2 linked regions of the Homo sapiens genome follow. The protein of the gene in region 1 interacts with the protein of each later gene in a biochemical or structural test. Each region holds a gene or a part of one and is shown on either strand. Other genes may lie near its edges.

Region 1 (3,652 bases):
CTGAGACGGCCTCAGCAGTTTAAGCCTCTTTAAAGCCCAGAAAGCCTGTCCCCTTCCACACAACAGCCTGCCCTGGCTATCACTGGAGCAGACAGAGGGGCAGAACCATTCAGAGCCAGGACAGGAAGGCCTCGGCCACACCTTTGGGCCAGTGAATAACGATCATCAATTCATGTGCTTGACAGTTTCCCACATCAGATATGGAAATTTTCATCTGGATTAACGTGGTCATATGACACAGCCATGACCTACCCTTGCGTCCTGCTCCACCGACCAAGAAATAGGCACCAGCCTATGGGCACGCAGAGACTCTGGGATAAGGCTTACGACACCCGATACCTCACTAAGTTGTTGTGTGATCACTGTTTAAGGAACTTTGCTGTGAACGTGTTGTTGTTTCCAAAGTAATGGCTCCATCAGCTGTTTGCATTACATTGAAATAAGCTTTTGACCACATCCAAGGTAACATTGGATCACATTGAATAATTATCACATGATGCCTATCGGACTCCGAAGAAGAGCTTAGCGATTTCCTCCTGTTAGCATTTAGTGACCTTAAGACTCAAAGAAAAATGGACATCAGGGTTAGGTTCTCTGCTGTTCATGGCTTCCTCCCCTTTGGATTTCCTCTCCTAATCATGGCAAGGGATCTTTTCCAGGGTGCTGGTTTGGCCAAGCAAGCTGGGATGCCTCTTGCTGAGGGCTGCATTCCTGCCTCTGCTGGGGAATCCATGGAGGGAGCTGTTCTTCGTCTTTGTATTTACCTGCCACCAAAGCACATCTTGATTTTGAATTTAGGGATTGTTTTCTTCCTGTCCTTATGCTGACAGGTATGCATATGCATTGTGAATTTACCTACAGAAATAGAGCACTGCTGGGTAGAATGTTAATTTTGTTCTTATAAGGACTTGTGTATGTTTTTTTAATTTGCCAGCACTTGAGGTTTTAATTAATTTTTAGAAAACATACTCTCTTGCTTTCCCATCTCATCTAGTAAGCTGTTTTGCAACATAGCAGACTATATTCTATATTGAAGTAGGCAACTAAAAAATAATACTTTTTAAAAAAGTAAGGATTCACTTTACATTGACTACATTTCAGTTCATTCCAATAAAAGTTTTTTTGAGGTGGGTTTTTTTGTTTTGTTTTTTTTTTTTAAGTTATGATTGAATCACTTTGCCTTTAAGGTGGTGTGGAAGTAATTTAATTATATTCAGAACTCGGGCAGGAAACATTTGCAAGTCTAATATTTGTTGGATTCCTAAAGAAACAGAATGCTCCAGATCAGTTTCCTGTATTTTTGTCTATCTAATCTAAGAGTCACAGGTACTGTTTCCTGCATTTAACAGTGTCAGACATGTAGTGCCAAACCCAGGAATCTTGCTGGCGTTAGGTTTTTGATTTCAAAATTAAGGAACAGATTCTATGGCTTACATTTGTATAAGAAGTTTAGAATATCTTTATTTTTCTTACATTTTCTAATATGTAATCATTGTGCTGGTTCTTGTCTCCTTGAATGAATGCAGGGCAATAAATCTGTTTCAGATGTTACAAACTTGAAAACCTGTAGATAATCCTCTAGTGTCTTCAGTAATCCCTTTGTTCTGCTATTGAAATTACATCAATCTTCCAGGCCAAAACATATATATTAACTCGGTATTAGGAAAACTTGAACAAAGGCGGAGTTGAGAGTACAAATGAATCACTGACTAAGTAAACTCTGCCATCACTGTCCTTTCCAGATTCTTTATCATCTCATAGGATGTATTTTAGTGATAAATGAGCTTTGAAATGTGAACCCTCATTTTTGACAGAGAGGGCAGCATTGCATATACAAAAACAGGAGATTTGAGGCCAAACAGACCTGAGTTGGAAACCCAGTCCCATCACTGACTAGCCATGAACCTCAGTTTTCTCATTTATAAAATGGGCCTAACACCATCGAGTGTTGTAGCTGGTGTGTGTAAAGCAAGCATGAAAGGCACATTTTAGGCATTAGAAATGCTTGCTTCCTCTCTCCTGCCCATTAATCCAGGGTCTTCCTTTGAGAGGAGCAGCTCACAGGGACATGGGTGCTGGATGAGATGAACCAGAGTGCGCATAATCTCAAACTTTGGGGTGTTTATGTAGCCATAGGACTTACCTCACCCCTAACTGGATGCTTGTCTTGTTCCCTCGCAGGTCCTCGAGAGGTTGCAGCAAAGAGGATTTGAAATCGTGGGCTCCTGTGGGGGAGGAGTAGACTCGTCCCAGTTCAGCGAATACGTCCTTCGGCGGGAACTGAGGCGGACGCCCCGTGTACCCTCCGTCATCCGGATAAAGCAAGAGCCTCTGGACTAAATGGACATATTTCTTATGCAAAAAGGAAAACACACACAACCAATAACTCAAACAAAAAAGGGACATTTATGTGCAGTTGGGACAGCAAACCAAGTCCTGGACGTAAAATCGAATAAAAGACACATTTATATCCAATAGAGACCACACCTGTATTCATATGGGAACAATTGGAATAGTGATATCCTCAAGGTGTAAAAAATATATAAATATATATATATATGTCAAAAGGTAGGAAATGCAAAAAAGAAAAAAAAAAAAGGTGACAGCCGCAGTTGGTGCTGTGATGGCCGTGAAGTGTCCTGGGCCTTCCGAGGCCTCTGACAAATAAACAAGCCATGAGTGGTGAGGACACAGTCTCCTTACAGTTTCCATTGCCAACAACAGCCATCCATATTTCTTTTTTCCTTTGTCTTTCTTTTTCCTTTTTTTTTAAAAAAACAAAACAAACAAAACACCTTGAATCAAGTTTGTTTGTATATGGAGGTTCCACGTCTTTCTTTAGGCAGGGACCAGGCAGGACTTCAGAAAAACCCTCATGAGCACATTGCAAAGATGTTAGACATGAAATTTTAAATGTAGTTTGTACAGAAGTCACACTTTTTTGTCCACCTCACAGATGTGAACTTTACTTTGTTTTAAAACTGATCAGTTTTGCCAAGGGGCCAGAATTATTCCTTGTTAGAATTGCTCCAGTTCAAGTCTGCTGCTTTCCTACAATTTTTCAAATTTTATAATGTATTAAATACAATAAACTCTGTTTAAAAAATAAGGTCTGTGTGAAACACACATGTGGGGGTGAGGCTGGATTAAAGTGAAATTTTTTCTTTTTGAAATTGTCCGTGTTGAGCATCAAAAAGAGGCATGAAAGCCGGGGTCAGTTTTGAAGTCAAAACCTACTAAAGGCTAAGGATGTCATCACCTGTTCCAGACAGTTGTCTTCCGACCCAGCAAATGTTATTTCCTGTGCTTTGTTATTCTGCATTGGTCAGCAAGGTAAATCTTCCTTCTTACGGACTTTTCGGTTACACCTATTTCAGTTATCTGGCTGCAGAGCAAGTCACACCAAAATTTAATGGCTTAAAACATTTTGTTCTGGCCTGTGATACTGGCCTTCGCTGGGCTGCATCTGCTCCATGTCTGCTCCACTGCTCCAATCCAGGGGTCTGATTGGCGTGGAATGTCCTAGATGGCTCACCCAGATGGCTGCAAATACTTGGCTGTTGGCCTCTATGTGGCTTGGGCCCCTCTCAACATGGTAAGTGGATTCCAAGAAGGAGGCAGAGAAAGCCACAGTTCTCTAAAAGCCTGGGCC
Region 2 (3,652 bases), on another chromosome or scaffold:
ATTACAATTGAATTTAAGTTCTGGCTTTGTAAATTATTTTTTAAAATGTTTAAAACCATATATTTGAGGAGGAATCCTATGAATTCTCTTTGTTGATGATGTCAGAGATTGATAGTAATATAACTGTTTAGAAAATCAGCAATTGTTCAGTGCCAGAAACTCAACTACAGTACCATTACATTAAAAATCATAACAGTCCATAGAGAACCCACTATTCATACTCCAAAAGAATTATAAGCCAAGAAAATGGTAGTGGTGGCTTAAGGTATAGCGTGGAGTTCGTCTGGGTTTGGGGGTTGAGTTCTGTAGCAGGGAGGCAGTTTCTGGAGAACTGTTATTGTTTGTGATCCGCTCCATTTTATGGAAACAAGCTCTGCGGAGAGGGCTTTGATGCTCTAATTGGCGCATGCGTTCTTCCGGAGCTGGAGCTAATGGCAGGAAGCCCTGCAGTAAAAACCAACTGGTTCAGGAAATTAAAACCAAAGATTCGAAAATCAACAACACAGACAGACTCAGTGGAGTGACCCTCAAATCCTCTTGGTTAATCGGTTTGGATGAACAGATAATTTATGTGATCAAGTTAAAATGTAACCCCTCAGTTGTTCCCTTGCAGAAAAGCTCAAAGAGTAATTATGAATATCATTTATGAATGTGTTGATAGGTGTGAAGTTGGAATACAAGAAGCATTTTAAAAGAGAATTTGGAGAAGTGTCATTTAGGGTGGGGGATGGGACTGGAGGTTGGTGGATGAGATTTTCATTTTCAAGTCTTCTTGGCCCTCTAGGAGAAGTGGTCATTTTTCCTGATAAATGCATCCACCAGATCCTACAGAGAAGGAAATAAAATGCCTGAAATGAGAAAACAAGTAGTTTGTGTTTCCTGCAACATCTGGGGTGAAGGGAATTAGGGAGTTGGGAGTGGGGAGGAAGTTAGGATCCCCACTCTTCATTCTCTCGCACTGGCTCCCTCCTCTCCCCTCTTGCCAGGAGAAGCTGTCCACCTAGCCAGGGACTTTGGGTACGTGTGCGAAACCGAATTTCCTGCCAAAGCAGTAGCTGAATTTCTCAACCGACAACATTCCGATCCCAATGAGCAAGTGACAAGAAAAAACATGCTCCTGGCTACAAAGTAAGGCATTTACCTCTATGGGGTCTCTGTGTCTCGTTGTCAAGAGAAAGAGAAACAAAAATCGTTTTTGCTCTTCCTTCTCCCTTGTTTTCCTTTTGTGTTAATCAGCTTTGTTGCAGTTATAACACCATCTTATATATAGTCTATGTTAAGGAAGAAATACAGGTGGGATTCTTGGGCGCTCCCATCTTTTTCCTCTCATCTGTCCCATTTACTCATTTTTTTTTTTTTTTAATGAGTGTGTATGGGAGTGGGTTGTAGGAGGGGTTTGACTGAAGTTAAGGGTGGATTTGTGACTATGTTGTTTCAGAAAGACCAGAATCAAATCCTCAAAGGGGTAACAGGCTTACCTATATCAGTTTTTGTATCCTATCAATATGTTCTCCAAGGGCAAAGATTAAACAGTGGCCTGCAAAATGTGCAAGCCAGAAGCTGTCCTAGTTTCAACCCTAATCTGTTATTCCATTTCTTACCTTCCTTTCACAACCCCTTCTCGAAAGTGACACACACACACACACACACAGACAGAGAGAGAGAGAGAGAGAGAGAGACCCACACCCCACATAAGTTTTAGCCCACAGGCGAGAAGTCAAATAGATTTCAAAATGGCCCAAGTTATATTCCCATCGGTGCCTGGGCTGAATAGGCTTCTCCAGGTGATGTGTGAAAAGAAAATGACTGTTTTGATGTGTTTTCTGGAAATTAAAAGGCTTGTTTGGAAGCCCTTAATTATCAAAGTTGATGTCACAGGAGGGCATGGAAGCAGAGGGCAGAAGCTGAGGCCTTGGGTGGGACCCTGTTTCTGGCCTGGGGACATCAGCTGGCCTTGGAGAAGGGAGCCAGCCCAGGCTCCTCATTCATCCCCCTCCCCAGCCCCCCAGGCCAGGCTGCTGCTGCCCCTGGAAGGCCCCAGCTAGCCCTTGCTTCCCAGATTCAGAGACAGAGCTTCCTGAGTGCAGGCCTCATCTACCTCTGCGAAATTTCAACTTTCTCTTTCCCCAGGCTTCGTAAGCACACCCATCTCCACAATTTCCCTGCAGTATTTTTATTTTGAGCTATGTGGGGAAAGAGGAGGAATGGGAAATCGAAATGTCTGTTTCTTCTTCCCAAACACTACTTTGAATTATCTCCAAGTAACAGGGCTTGTGTGGGCCCGTTTTGTTTTTTTGTTATTCTTGTTTTTTAAAGGCAAAATAATCCCAAGTAAAGTTTTGTCTCTCTGTCCACATTGACCTGAATTTGATTTGAAGGTGAACGAGTGTGGACTTCATTCTACAAACTGCTGCTGAGGTCTCTCTAGAGGAGCAGGGAAGAGGGTCTTTATGACATTTTGAATAGGAAGGCTGATGGCTGCAGCATAATGTTCGCAAGATGCTACTGTTTCTGACTTCCGGTCTGCGTGACTCCTTTCTTTCTCTTCCAATGTGTGAAATGGTTTCCTATGTCTAGGATGTTTTGTGTGAGGGAGAAAGGTGGGAATAAAAGTTTACCATATCTGAGAGGAAAGAGAGAGAGAGTCATTTGTGAAGGTAGGAAGTAAAGAGAGATGGTTTAGTGGTCACTGAAAGGTGGCTGGATCTCCCAACATGTGGCCACACTGTCTGTCTCTGGGGTCTTGGGTCATGTCAGGTACCGGCTGGATCCCGGCAGAGGTAGCTGCAGGGAGGGAGGTTTTCTCTTTGCTGCTAGTGCTGCCCATAGTGGAGCCTTATGTCTCTCTCTCTGCTCCACTTGTGCTGCAGACAGATATGCAAAGAGTTCACCGACCTGCTGGCTCAGGACCGATCTCCCCTGGGGAACTCACGGCCCAACCCCATCCTGGAGCCCGGCATCCAGAGCTGCTTGACCCACTTCAACCTCATCTCCCACGGCTTCGGCAGCCCCGCGGTGTGTGCCGCGGTCACGGCCCTGCAGAACTATCTCACCGAGGCCCTCAAGGCCATGGACAAAATGTACCTCAGCAACAACCCCAACAGCCACACGGACAACAACGCCAAAAGCAGTGACAAAGAGGAGAAGCACAGAAAGTGAGGCTCTCCTCCCGCCCCGCCCCTCCCACGCCTCACCAGCCCCCCGCGCGCCCACCCTCCGGCGGGTGACAGCTCCGGGATCAGCAACCCTTCCTGCTGCTGCTACTGCTGCTGCTGCTGCCGCCGCCGCCGCCGCCGCTGCCCTTGGGTCCCCCCGAGTCTCCGGGACTGCCCTCTCGACTGTCAGTGGGGCAGCCTCTCCGACTCTGCACCCGCCTCGACCTCCCCACCCGCTCCCACACCCCTGTGCCCTCATGTGGAGCCTAAGAGAACAGAACAGGCCGTGAAGCCAGCAGAGAAAAGTTCTGCCAAGTTTGTGAACCCTTTTTTTTTTAAACAAAACAACAAATCAACAACAGCAACAACAACAACAAAAATTAAAAACTTTTTTCTAAAAAAAAAGTGAAAATAAAAAAAATTATATGCGCTTCATGGGACTGAGTCACCACCTTCCCTTACATACTTCAGTTCAGATTGTAGCCATACTTAAAAAA

What was found.
Region 2: the proteins of KCTD1 (region 1) and TFAP2A form a complex in vitro, tested with the Homo sapiens proteins (one study listed by BioGRID).

Annotation. Positions count from the first base shown.
Region 1 is NC_000018.10:26,454,431-26,458,082, reverse strand, and holds the end of KCTD1 (BTB/POZ domain-containing protein KCTD1), read left to right. Parts: intron 1-2,181; coding exon 2,182-2,340; 3' UTR 2,341-3,173; downstream 3,174-3,652. UniProt on the Homo sapiens protein: May repress the transcriptional activity of AP-2 family members, including TFAP2A, TFAP2B and TFAP2C to various extent.
Region 2 is NC_000006.12:10,397,924-10,401,575, reverse strand, and holds part of TFAP2A (transcription factor AP-2-alpha), read left to right. Parts: intron 1-986; coding exon 987-1,128; intron 1,129-2,870; coding exon 2,871-3,159; 3' UTR 3,160-3,652.